4 linked regions of the Homo sapiens genome follow. The protein of the gene in region 1 purifies or fractionates together with the protein of each later gene. This does not show direct contact. Each region holds a gene or a part of one and is shown in the gene's direction. Other genes may lie near its edges. The genes, in order: ZNF114, CUEDC1, PPP2R2C and PPP2R1B.

Region 1 (7,025 bases):
AAGGAGCTGAAAGTGTCTTTGGTGGGGTGCAGTGGCTCAAGCCTGTAATTCCAGGACTTTGGGAGGGTGAGACAGGAGAATCATTTGAGGCCAGGAGTTCAAAACCAGCCTGGGCAATGTAGCAAGACCACCGTCTCTATAAATATAAAACAAATTTGCCTGGTGTGGTGGTGCACGGCTGTCGTCCCAGCTACTTAAGAGGCTGAGGTGAGAGAATCGCTTGAGCCCAGGAGGTTGAGGCCACAATGAGGAGTGATCACTCCACTGCATTCCAGCCTGGGTGACAGAGTAAGACTGTCTCTAAAAATAATAATAAAGTAAAATAAAAAGAAAGTGTTTTTGTCTTAAGGAACTCAGGGTCTCACAGGGGACACTAGGCGTTTATGGAGCGGGCAGTGGCAGCATCTCCCGCAACTGTCATGACCTGCAGATGACAAGCAGTGGACTGAGACGTGCCCCACTCCAAATTTTTTTTTTTTTTTTTTTTTTGAGACGGAGTTTCACTCTTGTTGCCCAGGCTGGAGTGCAATGGCATGATCTCGGCTCACTGCAACCTCCGCCTTCCAGGTTCAAGTGATTCTCCTGCCTCAGCATCCCGAGTAGCTGGGATTACAGGCACCTGCCAGCACGCCCGGCTAATTTTTGTATTTTTAGTTGAGATGGGGTTTCTCCATGTTGGCCAGGCTGGTCTCGAACTCCTGACCTTAGGTGATCCGCCCACCTCGGCCTCCCAAAGTGCTGGGATTACAGGCACGAGCCACCATGCCCGGCCAGGGTTTAAGGAGTAGCCACCCCTCTGTGATAGTTTGTTATAACAGCCTGAACAGGCTAATGCATGAGAAAGACACACAGTTGGTCAACTGGTAGAGATTGAAGTCCGGTCGCGTGACTCAGGTACTCTTTTTCCTGAGACAGGGCCACAGGTGATGGTGTGTGCTGGCTGTCCCAGCTACTTGGGAGGCTGAGGTGGGAGGATCGCTTGAGCCCAGCAGTTCGAAGCTGCCGTGAGCTGCATTTGCACCACTGCACTCCAGCCTGGGTGACAGAGCAAGACCCTGTCTCAGAAGAAAGAGCACCTGAGTCATACGACCGGACGTCAGTCTCTACCAATCGACTGTACCTCTTCCTGTTGCATTAGGCTGTTCAGGCTGATGAAACTATCACAGATGGGGTGGCTTAAACAACAGACATTGATTTTCTCACAGTTCTGCAGGCTGGAAGTCCGAGATCAAAATAGCGGCAGAGTTGCTTCCTTCTGGAGGCTCCAAAAAAGAATTTGTTCCATGCTCTTACCTAGCTGCTGGTAGTCACTGGCGTCCTTGGCATTCCCTGGCTTGTGGACCCATCACTCCAGTCTCTGCCTCCCTCACCAAATGACATTCTTCCCTCTGTTTCCCTCCCTCTGTCCACATTTCCCCTTCTTTTTTTTTTTTTTTTTTTAATTTATATTTTGTTTGTTTTTTTGAGACAGGGTCTTGCTCTGTTGCCCAGGCTGGACTGCAGTGGGAGGATCATAGCTTATTGCAACCTCCACCTCCCAGGCTCAGGCAATCCTCCCTCCTCAGCCTCCCGGGTAGCTGAGACTACAGGCACCCGCCCACACTCACGGGTAATTTTTTTATTTTTTGTAGACGGGTTGTCACTGTGTTGCCCAAGCTGGTCTTGAACTCCTGGCCTCAAGCGATCGTCCCACCTCAACCTCCCAAAGTGCTGGGATTACAGGCATACGCCACTGCAGCTGGCCAGATTTCCTCTTCTTATAAGGACACCAGTCACTGGATTAGGGCCCACCCAACCCCCAGTACAACCTCATCTTTTTTTTTTTTTTTTTTTTTTGAGACAGTCTCACTTTGTAGCCCAGGCTGGAGTGCAGTGGTGTGATCTCGGCTCACTGCAACCTCCACCTCCCAGGTTCAAGCAGTTCTCTGCCTCAGCCTCCTGAGTAGCTGGGACTAAAGGCACCCGCCACCACCATGCCCAGCTAATTTTTTGTATTTTTAGTAGAGACGGGGTTTCACCATGCTGGCCAGGCTGGTCTCGAACTCCTGACCTTGTGATCCACCTGCCTCAGCCTCCCAAAGTGCTGGGATTACAGGTGTGAGCCACCGCGCCCGGCCACAACCTCATCTTAATTCATTGACATCTGCAAAGACTCTAGTTCACAAATCAGGTCACCTTTGCAGGTACCAAGGGTTAAGACCTCAACCTACCTTTTTCTGTGGAGAAAGGGGTCACAGTTCAAACTGATAACAGGACACCCCTCCGAGCCAAACTGCATGTGTTATTTTAGGACTCGGTGACCTTCGCAGACGTGGCTGTGAACTTCACCAAAGAGGAGTGGACCCTGCTGGACCCAGCTCAGAGGAATCTCTACAGAGACGTGATGCTGGAAAATTCTAGGAACTTGGCATTCATAGGTAAGGAGGCCCCCTTCCTGCACTTAGTCCGTGATGGGACCAGTGCTGGTTTGGAACCGTGTTCTGGGAAGTGCATTGGAAAATGGGAACTGGGTTAAATTCCAGAGACACAGCTGCTGCCCCCCAGGTAGTAGGTGTAGGGTTCACCATGAAACTGGAAGTCAGTTTGTTGCATTACTTTATTTATTTTATTTTATATTTTATTTTATTTTATTTTATTTTATTTATTTTTTGAGACAGGGTCTCACTCTATCTCCCAGGCTGGAGTGCAGCGGCATCATCTCAGCTCACTGCAACTTCCACCCCCCAGGTTCATGCAATTCTTCTGCCTTAGCCTCCCTAGTAGCTGGGAATACAGGTGCACACCACCACACCTGGCTAATTTTTGTTTGTATTTTTAGTAGAGGCAGATTTCACCACGTTGGCTAGGCTTGTCTTGAACTCCTGACCTCAAGTGATCCTCCCACCTCGGCCTCCGGAAGTGCTGGGATTACAGGCGTGAGCCACCACACCCAGCCTTTATTTTTCTTTTCATTAAGATGGGGTCTCACCCTGTCACCCAGGCTGGAGTGAAGTGGCACCATCTCGGCTCACTGCAACTTCCGCCTCCTGGGCTCAAGCAATTCTCCTGCCTCAGCCTCCTGAGTATCTGGGATTACAGGCATGCTCTACCACCCCCAGCTAATGCATTACATTTTTATTCTCTTCGTGATTGAACAGAATTTGGGGGATCCTTATGTAGGTGAACATGGTGCACAGGAAAAGGGTCGTTTTGAGCCCTTTTGGCAGAGTTTTAGTGCATTGATGAGAAAAGTAGAGGGACCACTGTTGCACTTCTATTCACACATCATCAGCTTCAGAACCCCAGCAAACCAAAGCCTGTGTCCATTTGACAGAAAGTCTCGGCACAGTTCCTTTATACCACATGCTTGCCCAGTGAGCAGGATTTCAACTAGGCAAACCCAGTCTGCCCTCTCATTTGGAGCAAGAAGTGGTCTGAAAACAGTGCAGGGCAGTTTTGTCCAGGCATTTATGCATCTCAGTACCAGGTAGATGTGAACATTACAGGACCAACAGGTTTGTAAGCCAGCAGCATGGTAACAGAGCAACAGGCTCGCCACTGAGACAGCAGGGTTTGCAACAGAGAAAAGAGAAAGTTGCATGATTACATGGTGCCAACCGAGGAGATGGGAGGAGACGCTCAAATTCTTCTCCCTGGGGGGTTCTGGGGTTTTTGTTTTTTTTTTGTTTTTGAGACTGTGTTTCACTCTTGTTGCCCAGGCTGGAGTGCAGTGGCGCGATCTCGGCTCACTGCAACCTCCACCTCCCGGGTTCAAGCAATTCTTCTGCCTCAGCCTCCCGAGTAGCTGGGATTATAGACATGCACCACCATACCTGGCTAATTTTTGTATTTTTAGTAGAGACGGGGTTTCACTGTGTTGGCCAGGCTTGTCTCAAACTCCTGACCTCAAGTGCTCCGCCCACCTCGGCCTCCCAAAGTGTTGGCATTACAGGCATGAGCCACTGCTCTCATTTTTAAGGGGATCATGGAGGATAAGGGACTGGAGAATTGGAGACGTTGATTGGTCAGAGGAAGGGGGATGAAATCATCGGGATGAGGAAAGTACATTCTTTGGTGCGTCAGTTTCTCACGGCATTCCTCAGATCAGTGAGCATAGTCATTTCATCAGAATGCAGGACCTGAAGGAATATCTCAAAGAGAAAACTTAATGTTTTATAATTTTCAAGTTGTTATCTACAGAGCAGCTAAGGAGACCTATAGGCCAGGCACAGTGGCTCACACCTGTAATCCTAGCACTTTGGGAGGCTGAGGCAGGAGGAGGATTACTTGAGGCCAGGAAGTCGAGACCAGCCCAGCCAACATGGCAAAACACTGTTCTTTTTGTCTTTAAAAACAATTTTTTTTTAATTAAAAGGAAAAAAAAAGAAAGAAAAAAACAGGCACTCTGTTGCCCAGGCTGGAGTGCAGTGGCTCAGTCTCAGCTCACTGCAATCTCTGCCTGCCGGATTCAAGTGATTCTCCTGCCTCAGCCCCCTGAGTAGCTGGGATTACAGGCACACGCCACCATGCCCAGCTAATTTTTCTATTTTTAGTAGAGACGGGGCTTCACCACATTGGCCAGGCTGGTCTCAAACGCCTGACCTCTGGTGATCCACCCACTTCAGCCTCTCAAAGTGCTGGGATTACAGGCGTGAGCCACTGTGCCTGTCCAAGCTTATGTTTTTTGACTTTTATCCATCCTCTCATATTTTCATTTTTCCCTGCTAAAGGCCTGTTCCTTTTCTCCTTAAAATTGCACATGGAGCCAGCTACTCGGGAGACTGAGGCAAGAGGATCACTTGATCCCAAGAGCTCAAGGCTGCAGTGTGCTGTGATCACACCTATGAATAGCCAGCCACTGCACTCCAGCACCTGGGCAACCTAGTGACACCCTCATCTCAAAAAAATAAAAATTTCACATGGACTCTCTGTCCAATTCTCTTCCACTTAGAATTCCTGATCGTTTCCTTGATCTCTGCAGAACTGTTCCTCAGTAACATGACACTCTCCATGTTGAACCCCTGACCTTACCGTCATCACATTCCTGACACTGCAGAATCTCTGATGTCTTTCTCTGCTTCCTTCCTCTTGCTTTCTTCCCCTTCACATTTTTATCATACATGTTGAGTGAACATTTAGAAAGAAATCCACACAGAGGCCTGGCGCGTTGGCTCATGCCTGTAATCCCAGCACTTTGGGAGGCTGAGGCAGGTGGATCACATGAGGCCAGGAATTCAAGACCAGCCTGGCCAACATGGTGAAACCCCATCTCAACTGAAAACACAAAAATTAGCCAGGCATGGTGGCACGCACCTGTAATCTCAGCTACTCAGGAAGCTGAGGCCAGAGAATTGCTTGAACCTGGGAGGCGGAGGTTGTAATGAGCCAAGATCATGCCACTGCACTCCAGCCTGGGCCACAGAGTAAGACTCTGTCTAAAGAAAAGAGAGAAAGACAGAGAGAACGAGAGAGAGAGAGAGGAAAGAAGGAAGGAAGGAAGGAGGAAGGAAGGAAGGGAAAGAAAGAGAAAAGAAAGAAAGGAAGGAAGGAAGGAAGAAAGAAAGGATGGAAGGAGCGAGGGAGGGAGGGAAAGAAAGAAAGAAAGAAAGAGAGAAATCCACACGGAGATTGCCTATGTCATCATCTCTAACCCACCTTTACTTTCAACAAAGAATTTAACTTTTGTGCCACTGTATTTCAGATTGGGCAACTCCATGTAAAACCAAAGACGCAACCCCTCAGCCGGATATTCTTCCTAAAAGAACATTTCCTGAAGCCAACAGAGTGTGTCTCACGAGCATCAGTTCCCAGCACTCCACATTAAGAGAAGACTGGAGATGCCCCAAAACAGAGGAACCACACAGGCAGGGGGTGAATAATGTGAAGCCACCTGCAGTTGCCCCTGAGAAAGATGAATCTCCTGTTAGCATTTGTGAAGATCATGAAATGAGGAACCACTCTAAACCTACCTGCAGGCTTGTGCCTTCACAGGGAGATTCCATAAGACAATGTATCCTAACACGTGACTCAAGTATTTTCAAGTATAATCCTGTCTTAAACGATAGTCAAAAAACACATGAAAACAACGAAGACGATGGAGTCTTGGGGTGGAACATTCAGTGGGTTCCGTGTGGGAGAAAAACAGAGCTGAAATCAAGCACATGGACTGGCAGTCAGAACACTGTGCATCATATACGTGATGAAATTGATACGGGGGCCAACAGGCACCAGCGGAATCCATTTGGAAAAGCTTTCCGTGAAGACGGATCCCTTAGGGCACACAACACTCATGGTCGAGAGAAAATGTATGATTTTACTCAGTGCGAGAACACCTCCAGAAATAACTCAATTCACGCCATGCAGATGCAGTTGTATACCGCAGAGACAAACAAGAAGGATTGTCAAACTGGGGCAACCTCTGCCAACGCTCCAAATTCCGGTTCACACAAGAGTCATTGCACTGGAGAGAAAACCCATAAATGCCCCGAATGTGGGAGAGCCTTTTTTTATCAGTCATTCCTTATGAGACATATGAAAATTCACACTGGAGAGAAACCGTATGAATGTGGGAAATGTGGGAAAGCCTTTAGATATTCCTTACACCTTAATAAACATTTAAGAAAGCATGTTGTGCAGAAGAAGCCCTACGAATGTGAAGAATGTGGGAAAGTCATTCGGGAGTCCTCAAAATATACACATATAAGGAGCCACACTGGAGAGAAACCCTATAAATGTAAGACATGTGGAAAAGACTTTGCAAAGTCGTCAGGACTTAAAAAACATCTTAAGACTCACAAAGATGAGAAGCCCTGTGAATGAAAGGAAGGTGGAAAATTTTTCATTAATTTTCTGACTGTACCAAACATGTGAGGAGGACATATTGGAAGGGAGCTCAAGGGGTTAGCATGAGTGAGAACATCTTCCCTGAACTCTCGTATCTTACAGAAATGTGAAAAAAAACCCTGTGAAGGTAAAGTCTACAGAAAGCCTTTCATCTTCATTCATCTTGAGTAGACATTTGTTCTCACCCTGGAGAGAAACTGCGA
Region 2 (7,025 bases), on another chromosome or scaffold:
TAGCAGCAAGGAAACTCAGCTGAGAACAGGGGCCTCCTCCACCTTGTGCCCTTCTCCACTTGGAGTCTTCATGGCTAGAGGGGTCCAGGTGCACCTCTGAGGTTCTCCCTCCACTGCTTTCCTGGGTGGCTCCGAGGTGTGGTTAAATTGGGGGTGGGCACCCATGTCCCAGATGAAGACCCTGAGACCTCAAGAACTGGTAATACCCCTGGCGAGGGTCCCTCCCTGCTGTAGCCTGGGGTGGTCTGCGAGTCCCTTAGAGATGAGGCTTCCTCTCTCCCCATCTCTGGCCTTTGGAGAAAAATGAAGCCTCCAACAGTGACAGAAGGTGGCAGTGATGTAGAAAAAAATTTGGCCTAGGAATGGGAGTCCCGGGTTGTGATGCAAGCTGCTCTCCAGACCATTCCCTCTCCCCCTGTGTCTGTGCAGGGAGAGGGTGGACGAGGCGTGCTGGGGTTCCCTTGGCTCCAGTCTGCAAGAGCTGAGCTCCCACCAGGCACTTAGCAGCTGGTTATCCCTTCTGCTGCCGCCCCCGCCCCTTCCCCTCGCCCCCGCCGCCGGCCACCCGCCCGAAATAGAAAAGGAAAGGAAGTTATTTCCATAGTCAGCGGCAGCCCGGAAAAGCTCCCCTCCAGTGAGGGGGCGGGCGGGATTCCTAGAGCTGAAGACCAAATCAAAGCCAGGCCCGAGAGCTAGAGCAGCCCCCACCGCCCGGCCCTCGGCTGCCTTCTCAGTGTGCCGTTTTCCTGATTCAGCGGAACACGTGTCCTGCGGTTGCCACGCTGCAGGCTGCCATGGAGCTGTGGGGACCTCCTGGCCGGGCTCCGAGCTGCCCTCAGGCCCAGGGCGGTAGGGCGGGAGCCTGGGGGTCAGGGAGGGTGTGTGCCACCCCCTCTTCCTCTACTGCCTTGCCCAGCTGTTGGCTCTGCCATGGCACAGAGCTCCTGCCACACACACAACGGGCCTGGAAAGAGCGGCCCCAGAGCACCCTGAGAGCGAGATCCCTTCCACACTCACATCTCCACGCACGTTTTCAGAACATTGCTCAGGACACGGCCTCCTGAGGGGCTCCCCAGCACCTGGGCAGGGAGGCAGCAGTTTCTAGATAAGGAAACCGAGCCCTAGAGGGAACAGGGGCCCACCTAAGACTACCCTGCCGGCTGGTGGTTGAGCCAGAACTGGAGCTCAGATCTGCTTTACCCTCTGTAGGGATCCTGGCGTCCCCATATGCCCCTTCCTCAGCAAACCAGCATGCAGCAGGCTGTGCTGTTGGTGGCTTATGTGTCTGTTCCTTTGGACCATACCTGTCACTCAGCACCATGAGCCTGGCACTGTGTAGGTGCTAGGATAGAAGCATGAAAGGATGCGATCCCTGCTGTCTTTAGGGGACATTTGTAAACATCTATGGCTAAATCCACAGAGTTCCACATGTGCACCGTGGACAGACAGCTCTGTAGGTCCAGAGACCTGGAAGGGCACTGAGTGACTGGAGAGCATGAATGGCTGGGGAGTTCGCTGAGGCTGGTGGAGACATCTCCAGTGATGAGACAGAGTGACGGGCCTTTGTTCTGGAGGCAGTGGAGGCCATGGGAATCTCTGAGCAGGATCCGACCTGCCTGAGGACCTGGTGTGATGGGGCCAGGAGACCTGGGGTTGGGCTTAATGACTTCCTCTTCCCTGTCACCTGCCATCCCCTAGTATCGACGCGCTGGGCTCTGGAGCCCCTACAAGCCAGAGACGCTATCGGAACTGGAACCCACCACTGCTGGGCAACCTTCCGGATGACTTTCTCCGCATCCTGCCCCAGCAGCTGGACAGCATACAGGTAACAGGGGCCGCCCCCGCCTTCCACTCCCACCTGCTTGTCCAGCATCTCTCTTTGCCCACACAATTTGTGCCAGCCAGTTTTACTTCCTGATGTTTAAACCCAGGCTGAGCTATTTCTGTTGCCCTGGGTTCGTAGGGCAGGAATGCTGAACTGAAAGCCTCACTTCCTGCCTGGGCCTGGAGGTTTCCTGTTCTATCCAGGGAAGGTGACAGCCTAAGGAGGCTGTCTGCTGCAGCAGTCACCTCAGGCTGGAGAGAGGCGGGCATGGGGTGGCCAATGGTGGAGGGCCAGAGCACCCCCCTTCCTCCCTTGGGAAAGGGCCAGAGGCTGCTTCTTGCTAGATGTTGGCATGCCCCAAGGTGCCCCACAGCGGGGCAGGTCCACCCTGAGGCTGCTGGTGCAGGGAGAGGGTTGAGTTTGGGAATTGACGTATAGGCTGTTCCACAGTCTGCAGATTTGTTTTCAGGACTGTTCAGGTTGTAGATGAAGGTATGAGGTGGTCTGTGGCGTGGGGGAAAAATAGTTTTTAGGCTACTGCTGTGTCCCCTGCAGCAATGGCTCTGACCTGTCCGTTGGATTTTGGCTCGCAACCAGGTTCCATTAGGAGGTGTGAGCCTCAGGTGAGGGCTGGAGGATGTTGGACAGGGCATGTGTGCAACCAGAGGGATGTGGACGTTTGTGCAACATGTACCCTTGTGTGTACACATTCAACATGCTCGCTTCCCTCCTCAGGGTAACGCTGGGGGCCCCAAGCCTGGGAGTGGAGAGGGATGTCCACCTGCCATGGCTGGGCCAGGGCCCGGAGACCAGGAGAGCCGCTGGAAGCAGTACCTGGAGGACGAGAGGATCGCGCTTTTCCTGCAGAACGAGGAGTTCATGAAGGAGCTGCAACGGAACCGCGACTTCCTCCTCGCTCTGGAGAGAGGTGGGCAGCGCCTGCAGCCACTTCTCCCTGGCTGAAGAAGGGAGGTGATGCTGGCTTTAGCCTTGGGGCTCAGGAAAACACTGAGCTGGGGGCTGAGGGGGCCAGGTGCTTTCTGTCCTATTGAGGCATGACTCCCACCAAGTTATCCCATGGGAGCCTCAGAATTCTGCCTATGGGGACCTGGGTCACTAGCCCACCCCTTTCTCCCTCGGGACTCAGAGGAAGAAGGATGTGCACTCTTAGGCCTTCTTCCCTTTGCACACCTGCTCTGTGCCAGGCACTGGCCTTGGCACAAGGCAGCAGGGAGAAGAGCACTGCCCCTCCTCACAGAGCCCCAGCCCCAAGGCAGGCGTGATGTGTCTGGAGCTCCGGAAACAGAACGACTGGGTTCATGAAGGCCAGGGCGGGGGAGGCTCTTGAGTGGAAGACTTTAGAGCAGGGGCTCTGGAACTTTGCAGGTATTTGGGTTGTCTCTGGGTTGGAGACCCTGCTCCCTAGCCTGGCTGCCTTTCCCCTGCAGGGTGGGAGTGCGTTTGGGGTAGAGGAGACGAGAGGGCTGTGGAGCTCTGTCCCTGTGACGGCCACAGCGTGAGAGCTTGTGTGTGTAACTGATGGTGTGTTGGTGGGGGAGGAGCAAGTTGTGGAGGGAGAAGGCTGGGCTGAGGCCCAAGGTTAGCCCCAGCTCTGCAGCAAAGGTGCTAGAAGCCTCAAGGCTTTTCCGTTTATTTTTTATTTTTTGAGACATAGTCTCGCTCTTGTCACCCAGGCTGAAGTGCAGTGGCTCAATCTCGGCTCACTGCAACCTCCGCCTCCCAGGTTCAAGTGTTTCTCCTGCCTCAGTTTTTCAAGTAGCTGGGATTATAGGCGCACGCCACCGCACCTGGCTGATTTTTGTATTTTTAGTAGAGACGGGGTTTCACCATGTTGGCCAGGCTGGTCTCGAACTCCTGACCTCAGGTGATCTGCCTGCCTTAGCCTTCCAGTGTGCTGGAATTACAGGCATGAGCCACCATCCCTGGCCGTGCCTTTCTTTTTAAATGAGGGGGTTTGGACTCTACAGTCTCTCTGAGTCCTTTTAATTCTGACATTTGAGATGGCTGTCAGGCGGTAGTTTCTTTTACTGCTGGTTCTTTGAGAGCTGGTAGATGTGTGCACTCATATTTTGGGTGCCCGTGTGTGCTCATGTGTGATTCTGGGGACTTAGCCTCTAGCAAACTACCGTGTCCCAGCCCAGCCTGCCCCTGGGAGCCCAGGAGCTAACCTCCCTGACCTGTGAATGTGGTCCTTTTCCAGATCGATTGAAATACGAATCCCAGAAATCTAAATCCAGCAGCGTGGCTGTCGGAAACGACTTTGGCTTTTCCTCTCCTGTCCCAGGTAACTTTGCCTTCTGGGGAAGAAAACCTAGAGGCATAGTGGGGAGCTCACACCCAACTTTGCTTTGCATATTTGGAGTTTGAGAGGAGGGTGAAAAAACAGATTGTGGGAGGGGGCCTGGGCCTCCTCAGCAGGCTGGCGGGGCTGCTTCTGCCCCCATCTCCATATCCAGTCCATTTAGCAGCTCTGGGGTCTTTCCAATCCAGCCACTGCTGGGCTTCAGAGCCCACAGTTGTGTTCAAGTAACATAGGCTGGCTGAACTCTCAACCTATGCCTCGAGTGTAGGCTAGTCAATGACACATGGCCAGGTGCGGTGGCTCACGCCTATAATCCCAACACTTTGAGAGGCCGAGGAGAGTGGATTGCTTCAGCCCAAGAGTTCAAGACCAGCCTGGGCAACAAAATGAGACCCCCCTATCTCTACCAAAAAAGTACTAAAAATTAGCTGGGCATATTGGCCTGTGCTTCTAGTCCCAGCTACTCAGGAGGCTGAGGTGGGAGGATCACTTGAGCCCAGGAGGTTGAGGCTGCAGTGAGCTGTGATTATGCCACTGCACTCCAGCTTGAGTGACAGAGTGAGACCCTGTCTCCAAAAAAAAAAAAAAGAAGAAAAGGACCCCAAAATGCCCCGTGGTGGGGCTCAGAGACTCATAAGTCTTGGTCTGTGTCCTGGGGAAGCTTATGGTCTTGTAAGGAGAAATGCCCAGAAAACAGGTAGAACAAACTAGCAAAGCTGAGGACTTACTGATTTTAGCAAATGCATGGGAAAAAAGGAGGGCAGGATTAATCTGGGGAGTTTACTCATTCATTCATGACATAGCTGGAGAATATCTGCCATCTGTTGGGCCTTGCCCTAGGTGTTGGAGGAAGAGGAATTTCTAGCTTTGTGTACAAGGTGGTGGGAAGTAAGAATTGCCTGTAAAGAGGGCCAGGCCCTTCTGCTCAGAAGCTCTGATGGCTGAAAGAGGGTTGGATAGGGGTGAGGGGGCTGCAGTGCTCCTGGGATGCGCAGACTACTGGGTTGAGCCACAGCTGGGAACGATGACCTGGTGCCTGTGTGCGAACAGTGGCCCCTCATCAGTCAGTGCCCCCTGCCCCACATGTACACAAGCTGCCCACCTCGGAGAAGGGCTCTTGCCTGGAATAGACCTTGCATCATGCAGTGGAGTTGGGGGTGGAGGAGCAGAGGGATGGGGAGCTGAGCTGATCCCAGCTTGAAGGGAGAAAATCCTGTGGAACTGACTCATAAGCAGCAGGCTGGGAGCTTAGGGCTCAGCAGATGTGCAGCTGGGAGTTTTAAGCAGGAGCCTCTTGTCCTTGATCCTGAATTAACTAGAGATACCGGGGCTGCTGAGATGGATCAGAATGACTCAAAGGGGACTTAGCAGGCAAGGTGACTGGGGATTAACCAAGTTGCAGGACAGAGAGCAGGGGCTTCAGAAACCAGCAAAAAACCCAAGTGGATGCTGAGCGAGCCCGGGAGACTCTGGGTGGCCGGTGGGGTTCTGACTCCAGGACTAGTCCCATTCTATTCCTACTCATTGTCTAATAGCCAGAAACCCTGTGGCTGGGAGGGAGCAATGGATGGGCTTACCTGGCAGGAAGGACAAGGGACTTGCTACAGGTGAATGCCGGCTCTGAGCCAGCACCTCATTTGACTGTCACATGAATGTCGGGGTGCAGGAGGCCCCTGGTGTGCTGGTGAATGTTTCACAGCCAACTCTGGGTGCAGCGGGAGCCTGATATGTAGTGCTTGGTGACCTCCATGGTGGAAATACTCCCAAGCTACCAAGGTGATGTCATGAAACATGGAGTTGGTCAGAGGCGTGGACAGTTGGGAGCACACACGAGCTGGCTGTCTGCACACACAGTAGACCGCTGAACCCTCCCCATTTTTACAGAGGAGGAAACAAAGTCCACAAGGGGAAAGAGGAGCTCCTGGAACTCCACATCCTCCTTGCTTTAAACTCCCTTCTGGCCAGGGAAGAAGCCTGCTCTTTCTTTGCATTTGTCCTCAGATGGGTGGGTAGGGCTGGGACAGCGGCCATGGCTGGCCACGGTGGCCGGCCTTCAGCAGGTGTCTCCTTCCAGGAACTGGCGACGCCAACCCCGCTGTGTCTGAAGATGCCTTATTCAGGGACAAGCTGAAACACATGGGAAAGTGTGAGTCCCACTCAGGCCCCGCTTCCCTCCCCAGCTTTTCTGAGACAGGCCCTGTGGCCTCCCAGGAGTGAGGGAGCCCCTCAGCACATGTAATGCAGCTGACTCTTGGTGAACCAGTGACATTTTCATCGCAGGCTGGCTCCCTCAGCCTTCCTGCCTCACTTCCCTCTACAGCTGAGTCTAGATACAAATTAAGTTTTAAATCCTCTTGAGCCAGATGTCTGCAGAAAAATAACGTGCCACACATGCCCTCACCGCAATCCTCATGTTCACGTTCTCTGTGGCTCGAGGAGGCTTGGCCGGAGCTGACTGCACAGAGAGGCCCTTGCTAAGCCTCTGTGGGGGTGGGGGACCTCTTTCCACAAAGTCCTACCAGCCTTGAATGCCCCCTTCCCTCCCCCTCACCTCCCCGCCACACAGACCCACAGCCATGTGTGAATGAGGCTGCGATCCTTTCAGGCTCCATTTCAAGGAAAATCTCGGATTAGTCATGGAAATCCCAGAACCAACTTTGGAGGTGGCTAGGGGAGGGGCGGGAAGGCGGTGGCGGCGGGAAAGCGAGCCAAGATGCGTTGCAGTGTGTTGCAGCTGGGGAGGGAATACTTGGATCTTGAGCCGCCTGCGGTCCCTGGGCCTGGCTCAGGGTGTCCTGTGCTGCCCCTGCAGGCTGACCCAGGATGTAGCCTCTTGCTCCTGGGGTGGCGTCCTCAGGGGTCTGCGATTCCTGTCAT
Region 3 (7,025 bases), on another chromosome or scaffold:
GGGAGAAATAATAACGACCTTTCATACAGGGTTGCTGGGATGATCAGTGATTTTGCTAATATCAAAAGTGCCCAGCACAGTGCTTGGGTTGTTGGAGGCATTGAACACATGGCATTGTTATTATTTATATGCCTTGTAACTGGAAGAGCCTGTGGGCAAACAGTGGATGCTAAAATTCAGTTTGCGGAAGAACCAGGTGCACAAACTCCTGTTCTACCTGTGGTTGAGTCTACACTCCCCCACCACACCCCAGCTGCTCTGATCTACCTCCTGTTCCTTGAGCAGGCCATTTTCTTTCTTGCTTCAGGGCGTTTGCAATGGCTGTTGCCTGGAATACCCACCTCCTGCCTTTCTCACCACTGACTCTTTCTCATCCTTTGGGCCCCATGTCCAATGTCATCTTTGCCCGTGGGAGCCCTGCTTGGGTTCCTGAGTCTCTTGTAAAATCTCAAACATCTTAGGAAGAGTTTAGGTTTTGTTAGTCATTCACATCTTGGTGTGAATTCGTCAGAGCAGGTTGGATTTTTTTTTTTTTTTTTTTTTTTTTTTTTGGTGGCAGGGCTGGGTGGCTTACTCTTGGCTGGGCTCAACTGCATTGAGGGTTATGGTGATGATTAGGTGTACCTGCAGGCCACCTGGGGGCACAGAGAACTTTGCATGAATGGGGTCAGGGTGTGGGGAGAGCAGTGCAGCTGATAGGGCACTGGGCCCTGGGCCCTGGACCCTGGAGGGTGCTAGGAAGTCTCCATCTAGTTAGACATTTCTCAAGAGCTGGATATGGTTCCAGGAAGGACTCTTCCTGGCTCTGTTCTTTCTCTTTTTGCGGCAGGCCTCAGTACTTAGCTTTAGAGTGAGTTGAATAAGCACTTCCAGACTAGACTGAACTTACAAAACCCATCCATCCTTCCTTTGCTTAGCACCATTTGCCAAGCACATCCTGCCCTGGGCAGCAGTGATGACCAAGACACAGGAGCTCAGCCAAGGGGAGGTGGTTCAGGCTGACCAGGTAGATCCTGGCAGTGACTGGGTCTTTCTGGGGAGCAACAGTCACTCTCATGTGCCTGACAGGTAAGGCACTTCCGGAGCACACTTTTCAGCTGAGGCCAGAGGCACAGCTTCCCCTTGTTTGAGCATCTCAGCCATCACACACTGTTGGACACTCATGCTTTTTGCATCTGCATAAAGGATGTACCCATGTTTTCCTAACTCCCATCCCTGGATGTCCTGTGTGATTTCAGAGTAGTCTGTTTATTCCCACAGAGTTGTCCTGATTTTATAGTTGAGGAAGTGAAGGATGCTTGGGAATTGCTAAGGTCATCATGGGGTCCTGAGGCTGTCTGAACGCAGCAGGCAGGCAGGTTTTCCTGCATGGAATTGTCTGCAGGTTTTGAACTGGTTGTGCCCTGGATACCATCTACTTTCTGCCCAGGAAACCACACTGAAGAGGGGATGCTGCTTGTGGGAGACTCAGCATTCAGTGAAATCTGCACCCTTATGGTGGACGTTGCAGCTGATCTCCACAACAGTTAGTCTCTCTTCTTCCAAGGAGAACACATATGGTTCCTAGTAAGAGATCTCAGGCCATAGCTGGATGTGATCAGTGCAAGGATGATCTCATTCCCCTTGCAGTGACTGGTTCCAGAATGGATGTGGGAGTCAGTTCTGGAGGTTGAGTGGAAAGTAGGGAGAACCACAGGTAGTTGGTCCCTCTCTTGTGATGGGAACAGGGAAACCTTGTGGTGGCTGGCAGCCATCTGACACCATGAGGGGAGCAAGTCTTAGGCCACCACCGTTGATGGCAGGGCAGAGAGTGAGTGAGATCCAGGACATAGAGGCCTGATGTCCAGGCCGCCTCTGAACTTCCAGTTACATGAGCTGTTACTTTTCCTTTTCGTTGTGCACTTTCAAGTCTCCGTTACTTGCAGCCCATAGCACCCCAACTCGTACAGCCCTGACTGCTTATCAAGAAAACCAGGAGGCTGATCTGTAACCCACAGCTAAGACTCGAGATACATAAAACCCAGAGGGATTTTTGTTTGCTTTCTGTTTTGAGAACCCTCTTTCATTTCACTCAAGTCAAGGTTGCCAATTTCTGGTTTTCCCTCCTCAGTCCTATTGAGGAGGTATTTTTGGTCAGATAAGAGAGCCTGAGATCTGGCATCGGGAGATCTGGGTTCCTGGTGGGGTCTGACCCTGGGTCTGTAATATTGGGCAGGTCACACGGTCTCTCTGAGCCTCAGTTTATTCTTAATAGATCAGTAAGTGATGATGTCTATTCTTTAGGGGCCAGAGTTAGACTAGCCCTTAGAACTGTCATCAGACTGGCTAGCCTAACTTCCACCCCAACCTATGGGGAAACTGAGGCTAAGAGGGGGGACATTAGTGGTGGCACAGAGGGAGATTAGGGAGAGTCAGCCTTTGACTTTTGAAAATCAAGATGTGGACTGTTCAGATTCTGTGTTCCTTTCGCTTCTGTTTGGAAACGCCACTTACATAAGCTTCCCTTGGGCTTCACAGCGAGTGTGGGCTCCATTTCAGTGCTGGGGTGCCCTCCATCAAATCACATCACTTTCTGAGCCTCAGTTTCCCTGCACTGCCTGGTGCCCTGGGTTGTCATGAGGCTGTAAGGAGCCAAGGGCATGTGGACTCTGAAGTTCTACACGTGTAAAAGGCGACTGCTGTCAATTTCCCCAAATTGTAGTGTAGGCCAACTCCCACGCCCCTGCTGTAAGCAATGTGCTCCTTTCTTTTTAATCAACCCGAACTTAAAGCTTGGCGCAGTCACAGAGCACGGTTTTTCTCATTTTCTTTCTGGAAGATGAAAATCAAATTCTAATAAAATTTTTCCACTCCATCTCCTGACTGTTGTCATTTGCTACACTTTTTAGTGTTTATCCTTAAAGCTTGCAGAGCTAAGGGATGTTTGGTAAGAAGTGTTTAGGCCTTGAGACTGGAAGAGCCGCTGTATGAAGCGCTAGGCTCCATGGAGAGTGTGATGGGGAGTAAGAGAAGGAGAGTGAACTCCTGTGAGTCCACCAAGCAGAGGGACATACTCTCAGCAACTGGGGTATTTCCTTCCAGTCTTTTTTTAATGCCCATGTCTGTTTTTAATGAAAACTGTAATCTGTCTGTATCAACAATTTTGAAGGCTACTTTTCTAGTTTGGCATGAGATTATAGGAATTTTCCAGGGCTTTGCTCCAGGGCTGGCTTCATGGATATGCAACCTGTGTGGTCATCTAGGTCCCCACACTCAGAAGGACCTGTGCTTGGGTTCATGTTCTGCTGTTACTATCTTGAAATTTTTAAGAATTTCACTTTGGATCCTGTGTTTTGTAAGCGAAATCTGATGGGACGGGGGAGCCTGGGAATGAGCAGAGGGGTACGTGTGGCAGGCGAGTCTGTGGTTACACATATTGGCTCCCACAGCACGCTACCCTGTGTTCACTTGAGCGTCTGAGCCCCATGCACAGTGGACAGCTCATGCACCTTCTCAGTGCGTCTGTAGTTTCACAGGCAGGGGCCATGCTTTCAAATAATGCTCCAAGGCATTGATGTTCTCATGCAGTGACTTCTAAGAAACATGAATGACGCAGGAACCCTATGGTGTCCTTTCTTAACGTGTGTTACGTGCCCATATTTGCCAATCGCTGACACTGAAAATGATTACACAGAAGGGAAGGGAAAAAGAGGGCACCTATAGTTCCTTTTCCTCCTAGTCCTTCCTTGTTTATTATTGAACCAAGGGTAGAGGGTGTTGGAAGAATGTACACATATCCAGAAATGAAATAAGAACAGTTAAGTTAGTTTCCTCTGCTCTGGTAAGAACAAAATCCATATGCGAAATATAACTTGTGCATTTTGGTGAGTCTACATTCCAGTTACGTGCTCTTATGTTTGCATTTAAAATTGGAGGTGCACACTAGAATGGTGAGTGATAAAATGCACGCTAAGAGTTTAAGCTTTTTTTTTTTTAAATTTGAATTGACATTAAATAGCAAATAACACCATGACAAAATATGGAAGGCATGAAAAGGTTTTGTATCTTAGCACCTTTAATGATGCTTTTCCTTTGCTTTTTGAATAAGAGGCTCTGCATTTTCATTTTTCCCTGTGCCCCACGAATTATAGGGTTGGCCCTGCTCTGCTGGAACTCTGGGTAGGGTGAACTCCTTGGCCCTGCCTTCTACCTCCTTGGCTTTCGTGATTGGTGGAAATGGTGAGAGCCTGCCATCCATTGGGCAGCTCTTCCCTATGGGGAGGGGTTACAATATTAAATGTCCGTGCTCCTCTCTCACCCATTGGGTCCATGGGCCTCTGACTTCCAGGTTGCTCTACAGGGGAGAGGCCAACAGTTATCTTATTTTACAAGCTAGAAGTTAGACCTACCTCTCCCCGCAGGACCAAGGGGTGGGGAGGTGAAGTAGGGGTCCATAGCTCTTTTTTTTCCTACAGGTTTACCATTAATAAAGCAGATTTTTTTATTCCTGTCTTGCGGCCAGTCTTTTCTGTGTAATCCCAAGTCCCAGCAAGGAAGAGGGGTGACTGGTTACCTTGGCCCCGCCCCCAAGTCACACAGTACACGTATTGACAACCATCATTTCATTGGCTGCATACTATTCCTGTGATACATGTGTCATCATTCAGTAGTTCAATTAATCATTTCCTTATGGCTGGATATTTAGTTCCCTCCCTTCCCTCCCTCCCTCCCTTCCTCCCTTCCTTCCTTCTCTCTCTCTCTGTCTCTCCCCCACACACTTTCTTATTTTCATAACTAACACTGCAGGAATGAACACCATTTGTGTGTGTGAAGACCCCCTACTCCCATCGTTCCCCCTTAACCTTGGGATGATGCTCTTCAGAAGGAATTCCACACGTGCTATTTCATATAAAGATCACTAGCATTTTTAATGTTGTTGACACACATTGGCAGATTATTCTCCAGAAAGTTTTTCTCTTTAACCACATGCTGATCAACATTAGGTAGTCTAATTTGTTTGACCTTTGCAAATATCAAAGATGAAAAATATTTATTGTAATTCACGTCTGCATACCAATGAGGTTGAACATTTTTTCCTTTTGTTCAGCGGGTATTGGCTGATCCCTGTTATGTGCCAGGGTGACATTAGATTCTAGACATACAAAGTTGAAGAGCAAGGCTGTGTCTGCCTTGAAATGTGGACTCTCCTCTCCCAGTGTCTTGGGTGCCACTGCGGGACCTAGCTACTTCTCAGGAGAGAGTCTGAAGCTGCTGGAGGAGTCTGTACATCCCTCAGCACCCTGGGGAGTCCTGTTAGTTACACAGGGCCTTGCAAAGACAGGCATCTCACCATTAAGCCCTTGAGCAGAATGATCCAAGTGGACTTTAGGATGAAATAATTACAAAACAAACACAATAGCCATTATTATGATTCACCATTTATTGGCTATGTACTATAATACTATATGCTGGACATGAGGCTGCGTGCATCTCATTGGAGATGCCCCAGACCTGATGTTGTGTATATTATTTCCCCATTTTACAGAGGAGAAAACTGAGGCTGAGGTGCTTGTTCAATGTCACATAGTTTGTAAGGGACAGAGCTGAGTTTTGAATGCAGCCTGCCAAACCCACGCTCCTGACTGCTACATTAATTGGCTGGGACCCACAGGGCAGGGTTAGGTGGCCTGTTCAGTTCTGATTATGCACCACACTTAGGAGATTTTGGGATTTGAACTAGACTACCTGGCTTGGTGCTCTTGCTATCTGTGTTGCGATGAAAGGCAATCGAGAGGGTTCAGCAGGAGGAGAGACCCCCTTCACGGCACAGGTAGATGGCAGTGGCAGAGGCCACAATTGGACACGTGGTCCAGGGACTGAAGGGCAGGTGGCATTTCCAGGTTGGGGGGTGATGATGTGCTGGGACATGGTATTCTAGCGCATTCTGGGCAGGAGGAACGGTGTGTGCAAAGTGGCATAACACTTGTCCCCTGACAGTGTCCAGCTCCTCTGCTTGAGACCAGGAGGCAGTTAGTTAGTTGCCAGCCGGCCCGGGAGCAGGACACACCTGGGGGCCCCTGTGCTGCCCAGGACAGGCACTGCCCTCCTTGCACAGTGGGGGCCATTGTCCTCCAGAACCCAGGGCTGAATGTCCCATTGAGGCAGAACAAAGGCTGCTCAGAGGTTCCCAGCTGGGGTGTGGGCTGCCGCAAGCAGGGATGGGATCTCCAACTGCAGGCCAAGGGCCTCCTCCAGGCTGGCCTGGCCTCCTGCAGCCCCACCCCCACCCCTCCTCAGGACCAGGACTGTTGCTGCTGGAGGCTGGACCTGGGCTTGGGCTCCCAGGCCTGTGCTCTGGGTCTGGCACAGCTGCCGTGCCCTTGGCAGCTTCTTCATCCCCTGGGCAATTTCCCCATCTATGAAGCAGAGAGAGAGCGAGCTCCCAACCAGCAAGGCTTTCAGGCAGAATTGAATGAAATAGTGCACACTCTGTAGGTTAATCTCAATAAAAGGGAGCTCTTTCATGATCATGATTAGCTTCTGAATGTTTTTTTACAATTTCAAAAAAGTTTTGATGCAAACTTTCAAATTTGTGCCACTTCTGGGCCAAAGTGTTTAAGAAGGGAGTGCACCTTCCCCCCTCCCTCTGTCCCAGAGAAGGGAGAGATGCCGCTCCCTGGAGCCCCTCATCACTCTGTGGAAGGGACTGCTGGCCAACTGTTACAAGAGGAGAAACTTCTTTGCATTTGTGAGAAAATAGTCTATTGAACTGCTTCCAATCTATCAAGATCTTGCTGTACTTCCTTCATTTACTCTCCCCTGCTTTTGGATGAAGAATTTTTAGGCAAATCCAAGACTCCTGTCATTTCCCCGTTCCATCTGCAGGCATCTCTGAGTGTTGAGGGCATTTCTTGTAGCCCAGTGCTGTTATCCCACCTCACAAAACATATCCTGATTCTTTGTTACCTAAATTCTGGTCCATTTTATGAACGTCCCCAGTTGTCTGAGAAATGTCTCTTATGGTTGGGTGGTTTGGCCCAGGATCC
Region 4 (7,025 bases), on another chromosome or scaffold:
AGGAGAATTGCTTGAACCCAGGAGGCGGAGGTTGTAGTGAGCTGACATTGCACCACTGTACTCCAGCCTGGGCGACAGAGAGAGATTCCGTCTCGACAACAACAACAACAACAACAACAAACTGGAAAATAAAAGTTAATTAAAACTGAAGGAAAATTCTCAACCTGAAATGAAAAAGAAATCTTGGCTGACGTAATCTAAGTGTATGCCAAAATTTGTTCATTATGATCTTTTAGTACAAAGCAATTTTGGGCCAGGTGCGGTGGCTCATGCCTGTAATCCCAGCACTTTGGGAGGCTGAGGCGGACGGATCATCTGAGTCAGGAGTTAAGAGACCAGCCTGGCCAACATGGTGAAACCCTGTCTCTACTAAAAATACAAAATTAGCTGGGCATGTGCTGCATATCTGTAATCCCAGCTACTTGAGAGGCTGAGGCAGGAGAATCACTTGAACCCGGGAGGTGGAGGTTGCAGTGAGCTGAGATTGTGCCACTGTACTCCAGCCTGGGCAATAGAGTGAGACTCCATCTCAAAAAAAAAAAGCTATTTTGTCTTATTCAATCACTATTTTCAAAGCACTGACACATTATATTACCTCTCTTTTTTTAAAATATAGAATCACCAGTCAGGAACTTCTTAGAGTTCAAAGAAGCAAGACTGTAAATGTGTAGACCCCAGAAGGGAGGCACTAGGAAAGTGTGTCACAGCATTCTCCATGTGGTGTGGAAGCCCCGGGGTTAGAGGACTGTGTAAATCTGCTCCCGGAGCCCATCCCCAGCCTGCACTGAAGTGGCCACCTGTTGACAGTCGGGAGGAACAGGGCTGGGAGAGCAAGCCATGCCTGGGCCATATGCCCTGTAGTCCTGGGCCTGCTTTATTCTCCCTCCAGGGCTTTCTCCTGTTGTCTCGAAAATACTCTCTTTAACTGGGGATATCTCTATGTCTTGAGGTCAGTTGCTTTATCCTTAAGGATTTGTCATAATAGTAACCAAAAAGGGAAGACGATTGAGAATTAGTAATATTACTGACAGGTGTTTTCCTGGGTAATTCATTTTTACAGGTAATCCAGATTTGCTTGGCAGACCATACACAGTGCATTCTTCCTGCTCTTTTGCAGTGTTGTGGCTGACTTCTGGCCACCCTGTTCTCTTTTACCTAGCAGGGCCTATGCCAGCTCACGTATGCTTTTTTTTTGTTTATGATTTCCGTCCAATAAATAGATTTATGGTTTGTTTGTAATTCCTGTGGTGTTTCTATCTCTTATTTGTTTATTTGGAAACAAGTTTTTTTAGCCTTCAGGTAACCTTGGTGTAATGTAAATAGACCATCTTTATTTCTGAATTTTGGCAATGTATGTTAATGGAATCTTCTGTATCTGTAGGGTGTGGAATTCTTTGATGAAAAGCTGAATTCTTTATGTATGGCTTGGCTCGTGGACCATGGTGAGTAGATAAAAACAGATTATTGAAAGCCCATATATCCATGATTTTCATACATTTCCTTTTAGAAAGGAATCTCAGTCTGACCAGATATTTTGCCTTAATATTGTAGGAATGAAGAAAGGCTCTAATTAAAGTTTAATCTTCTGAATATAAATTTGACGTTTCTACCAATTTTTTGTATCTTCGATTTTATTTTCTCCATTAAACAATTTATTTGCATTATTTTCTTACTCAATCTATTACATTATCTTCAGACCATCTCTTTTATATATCTACTTACTCCTCCCTTATCTGAAGATCCTCTTTTTGACCATCCTGTAATTGGTGTCTTCAGCAGCTATACACTAGGTTGTATGGAGATTGGAATCAGATGAAAGGCCTGGGTGGGAGAAATGGCTACTTGGCTTTTTGAGGTGACATAGAAGAGGAGATCTACAGTGAGACAGTAGAGGATTCTTAGGTGTGGGAAACACTAGCTTTGCCATAGGGAGAGAGAGGGCCTGGATTTCTGGTTTGGGTGAAAGGAAGGCTTACTGCTTGTACTCTCACTGCTGCTGCTACAGTGCTAGGAGAGGGTGAGCTCAGGGCAGGTCAGATAGGACAGCAGGAATGAGCAAGTGACTTCCTGGTGAGGCTTCAGGTAGAGGTATATGTGTGTATCCCCTTGTGTGCCAGGCAGCAGTGGGTGACAGATGTACCGTCTCTGCCAGATCCCAGGTCCAGACTTGACAGCTTCAGTGTTGTCTTAGACCTGTTTCGATGAGTGTGAGTGCCCCTATGGGGTCATGTGACATTGTCCTTGAGCTTTGTTTCCATGTTTTGGTGGATATAATAGATAACCTGAGTCAGTTCCACAGTATCTTTTATATACTTGATATATGTATTTAGTGTATCTCTTTGTTCATCTATGGGTGCTTATGCCTGGAAATTTGGGAGGAATGAGGATATTTGTGTCTGCTTATACGTGTGGGTGGTTTTGTTAAAGGCATGTTTGCATCATATGGAGGATCATATGGTTAAGAGTGTGAAGAGGAAGGATGTGAAAAAATATGTGAAAATGTATAAGGGCTTATATATGTGGGTATTTCCAGTGTTTTCAAACTGGATTGTAGACTTCTTTCTCTTTTTCTTCTCTAAAGTTATCTTATTGTGGCCTATTTATTTCTTTTTAAATAAAATTAAAATTTGGCAAATCATAGGAAAGAAATACCACTTTTAAAAAAAATGTTTATGTTATATCTGATAAATATTTGACGTTACTGGGAATGGTGCATCCTAGCAAATCATTCTGTGCTTTTTTAAATTTTATTTTACTTTAAGTTCTAGGATACATGCATAGAACATGCAAGTTTGTTATGTTACATAGATATACATGTGCCATGGTGGTTTGCCGCATCTATCAACCTGTCGTCTAGGTTTTAAGCCCCACATGCATTAGGTATTTGTTCTAATGCTCTCCCTCCCCTCGCCCCTCACCCCCTGATAGGCCTCAGTGTGTGATGTTCCCTTCCCTGTATTCATGTGTTCTGATTGTTCAACTCCCACTTATTAGTGAGAACATGTACTGTTTGGTTTTCTGTTCCCGCGTTAATTTGCTGAGAATGATGGCTTCTAGCTTCATCCATGTCCCTGCAAAGGACATGAACTCATTCCTTTTTTATGGCCGCATAGTATTCCGTGGTGTATATGTGCCACATTTTCTTTATCCAGTCTGTCATTGATGGGCATTTGGGTTGGCCTCAAGTCATTCTATGCTTTCTTTAAAAGTTGGCATTTTAGATTAAGATGGTGTTTTATTTTGAGGAATTTTTAAAGTTCTAATATTCCACAAAGAATTAAATTCCTGGCACCCTTTCTCTGTAAGATTGTCTTCTCTATGCAACTTGATTACTCCTTCCTCTTTTCGGATTTTCTCTTTCAGTTTGGGAGCAGGAGAAACCCTTGTTTATTTCACTGCAGCAGCATGCTGAAGTGGGGACTGCAAGAGTTCCATGAACCAATGAAATAACAGCTCTGAAATTGTTTTGTACTTAATCACAGGAGCTTTTTTGCTTTTGCATTTCAGATAAGTGTTATATAATGATCACTGGATCAGTTAGAGTTTTTGAAACTTTTCCCCTAGTTAGGTAACTACTAAAAGAACATTGTGAAAATTCCAGAGAAGTATAAGGAAGAAAGTATCACTCACCTATATTCCTGTGGTTGAGTAGACAGTTTTGATCAGAGGGAGGAATGTAGAAGGGAAATTTATTTATTTATTATAGGAGAAAGGAGAAGGTATCAGTTATTGAGCATAGATAGACATTCAAAGAAACCTTGCAGGTCAGCCAGGCCTTGAGAGGAGATGGGGAGAGAGAAAGAGACAGAAATAGACAAAAGAAAACAGGCAGAACTCTGGAATGGTTTGCATTCTTCTGAAAACAGTCAGAGGAACCAAGAACATAGTAGGCATCTGGCCAAGTAGAGTTCAGTGCAGTTAAGGTCTTGGTCAAGGCTATGCATGTGTGTTCCCCAGTCTCTGGTTTTTCTGGCAGTAGAGATCCCTTCCTATGGTAATGGCATTATGATAAAAATCTAAAGCGTGTTAAAAAAAATAGTAATTTGCTGAGCATGGTGGCTCATGCCTGTAATCCCAGCACTTTGGGAGGCTGAGGCGGGTGGATGACTTGAAGTTAGGAGTTCGAGACCAGCCTGGCCAACATGGTGAAACCCTGTCTCTACTAAAAACACAAAAATTAGCTGGATGTGTTGGCGGGCGCCTGTAATCCCAGCTACTCAGGAGGCTGAGGCAGGAGAGTTGCTTGAACCCAGGAGGCGGAGGTTGCAGTGAGCCGAGATCTCGCCACTGCACTCCAGCCTGAGAGACAGAGTGAGGCTCTGTCTCAAAAAAAAAAAAAAAAAAAAAATTAGAGGAGAAGACACAAATACTCTAGCTAGCTCCTCTTTAGTGGGGAGGACAGGGAAGGGTTTGGGCCAAAGACAAAGACTATGGATATGAAGGGAAGGAATCTGTATTACAGTAAAACAGTTGACTTGAGTTTGCTCCTTAGTGCATCTGAGTCTTACCGAAAGGTTGCTTCTCCTGTAGACTGTCAGTTTAAGTGTTGATAATCAGTTGTATGGGTCACTTGTCTATGCTGTCTTGCTTGTTCTCAACATCATTGCCCAGAAGGATCTATGAATAGAAGAAGTTGCCTATTTCTTGGTTGGAGGCTTGTATAAATTGCCTAGGACTGGGACTGTGGCTTGGATAGCTATTCCTGCCCTTCCTATCATCCCAGGAAGGTTGGGCCCACCTGGGGAGAGAAGTAGAATAAGGAATTAGTACCTACCACCCTCGATTTGTTAATCTGAGCCCAAATTTTGAGTCTTACTGGATCTGTAAAGTGAAGTGACACCAGGCTTGTTTTTGTTCAGTGCTGTATATAGCAACTAATTGTGAGAGGATTGTAGCTGAGACCTTTATTATCTAGCTTTATGTCTTTGATAAATGATCAAAGGATATAGGGAATTATTAGATGTTAAGGCAGGCACATTGATTCAAAGACATTTGACATCTTGTTTCAACCTAAGCATTTTCATGGAGAGGAAGCAAGTCAGTCTGATGTTTGTATTTGCTGTTGTATAGATGACCACAGTGGCCTCTACACCATTTCCTTGTTGTCTTTCTCAGTCAACGTCGCTTCTCCGTGATGTTGCTGGAATAATCTTGCTAAAATTCCACATTGGTCATCAGGTCACAAGTTTGCTTTAAAAACCCATCACTGTTTTTCCTAATCAAATCTAAGTCTTTCATAATGCTCTGCAGTCTGGGTCCACCCTAATTGTCTAACTTAGAAGTCTCACAGGTTTCAGTTTTTTCTGTTTGTGTCCTGGATACATGTCTTTACCCTTTCTAGGAATTCCTCCCCGCTTCTCTCCACTTACACAGATCCTCCCAAATCTTCACTGCCCAGTCAAGGCTTCTTTCTGTGCCGAAGCCTTCCTAGACCTTCCCTGTTCACTCTTCTCTGCACTGCTACAACCCTCACAGCCTTTACTACACAATGCCACACTTCATTCTAATTGCTCTTACACCATGTGACTTCATGGAGTGTGTTAGCTTTCATTTCTCTGATAAGAGCATATTTCTTGTGAGGGAAAGTATCTTCTGTGTTCTTTTTGTAGCACATAGTAGGCACTTGTATTTGTTAAATAATTGATGATGCATATGGTGAGCTCCTTGCATCCCTTTTCTGTGGATATGCACACTTGGAAACTGAGTTGGAGCTGAGCATGCTTGTCATTGCAGCATGATTACATGTGGAGTCTGATTGCAGAGGGGTTTTGCTTTTGGTCCACATTTGATTTTCATGTAAGTAAACTAGGTTATGCTTAAAAAACAATAAGCGATATGAGAACATGTTTTTGACCTCTTCTGCAGTATACGCCATCCGAGAAGCTGCCACCAACAACCTCATGAAACTAGTTCAGAAGTTTGGTACAGAGTGGGCCCAAAATACTATTGTTCCCAAAGTGTTAGTAATGGCAAATGATCCTAATTACTTGCATAGAATGACCACTTTATTCTGCATTAATGTAAGTATAACATAACTGTTATTGCTAAGCTTAATCATTAAAGCAAAATTATTCATGACTATTTCTGAATTATCAGTATACTGTCTTCTATTTGGAATATATGTCTTGTATTGATTAATTGGAATAGACAGGAGATGAGAGAAAATGTCAATTTTAAAATTCATGTTAAAATCTACAGTATTGGCTGGGCACAGTGGCTCATGCCTGTAATCCCAGCACTTTGGGAGGCTGAGGCGGGCAGATCACCTGAGGTCAGGAGTTTGAGACTAGCCTGGTCAACATGGCAAGACCTTGTCTCTACTAAAAATACAAAAATTAGCCGGGCATGGTGGTGCATGCCTGTAGTCCCAGCTACTTGGGAGGCTGAGGCAGGAGACTCCCTTGAACCTTGGGCAGGGGGCAGAGGGTGCAGAGGTTGCAGTGAGCTGAGATCGCGCCACTACACTCCAGCTTGGGCGACAAGGCAAAACTCCGCCTGAAAAAAAAAAAAACAAAGAACAAAACTACAGTATTTTAAAAGTTCAACTTATTTGTGAATTCTGGTCTAATTCTCTGATCATTTGAATGATTCTTGTGTCCCCCACTCAGCTGCTCAAACTAGAAATATTTTCCTATTGGTCAATTATTTTCTTATTAAATATTAATTTGTTTCATTAGATTTTGGAATTTTTTAAAGTATTTTAAATGTGCCATCTTACTTATTTTTCTAGGCACTGTCTGAGGCCTGTGGTCAGGAAATAACTACTAAGCAAATGCTGCCCATCGTATTAAAAATGGCAGGAGACCAAGTAGCAAATGTTCGCTTCAATGTGGCCAAATCTCTACAAAAGATTGGACCAATTCTAGATACCAAGTAAGATTTTAGTGTTTAGTCTTGTTTTAAAAGTGTACTTTAAATTTTACCTTATAGTGGGGAGTAATTAGCTAAAATTAAGTTCAGGGATTTTCACTTTACTTAAGATCTGGGTTTGCTTAAAGAAAATAATTTAGCAACTATTTTTGAGG

The links.
Region 2: the proteins of ZNF114 (region 1) and CUEDC1 purify together in Homo sapiens (affinity purification with mass spectrometry; 4 studies listed by BioGRID and IntAct, with this or other methods). This does not show direct contact.
Region 3: the proteins of ZNF114 (region 1) and PPP2R2C purify together in Homo sapiens (affinity purification with mass spectrometry; 3 studies listed by BioGRID and IntAct, with this or other methods). This does not show direct contact.
Region 4: the proteins of ZNF114 (region 1) and PPP2R1B purify together in Homo sapiens (affinity purification with mass spectrometry; 3 studies listed by BioGRID and IntAct, with this or other methods). This does not show direct contact.

What each region holds. Positions count from the first base shown.
Region 1 is NC_000019.10:48,280,081-48,287,105, forward strand, and holds part of ZNF114 (zinc finger protein 114), read left to right. Parts: intron 1-1,471; coding exon of another isoform or gene 1,472-1,609; intron 1,610-2,290; coding exon 2,291-2,417; intron 2,418-5,680; coding exon 5,681-6,798; 3' UTR 6,799-7,025. UniProt on the Homo sapiens protein: May be involved in transcriptional regulation.
Region 2 is NC_000017.11:57,868,391-57,875,415, reverse strand, and holds part of CUEDC1 (CUE domain-containing protein 1), read left to right. Parts: intron 1-1,698; coding exon 1,699-1,825; intron 1,826-2,560; coding exon 2,561-2,753; intron 2,754-4,046; coding exon 4,047-4,130; intron 4,131-6,222; coding exon 6,223-6,294; intron 6,295-7,025.
Region 3 is NC_000004.12:6,462,604-6,469,628, reverse strand, and holds part of PPP2R2C (protein phosphatase 2, regulatory subunit B, gamma), read left to right. Parts: intron 1-7,025. UniProt on the Homo sapiens protein: The B regulatory subunit might modulate substrate selectivity and catalytic activity, and might also direct the localization of the catalytic enzyme to a particular subcellular compartment.
Region 4 is NC_000011.10:111,742,371-111,749,395, reverse strand, and holds part of PPP2R1B (serine/threonine-protein phosphatase 2A 65 kDa regulatory subunit A beta isoform), read left to right. Parts: intron 1-1,381; coding exon 1,382-1,442; intron 1,443-5,865; coding exon 5,866-6,020; intron 6,021-6,730; coding exon 6,731-6,873; intron 6,874-7,025. UniProt on the Homo sapiens protein: The PR65 subunit of protein phosphatase 2A serves as a scaffolding molecule to coordinate the assembly of the catalytic subunit and a variable regulatory B subunit.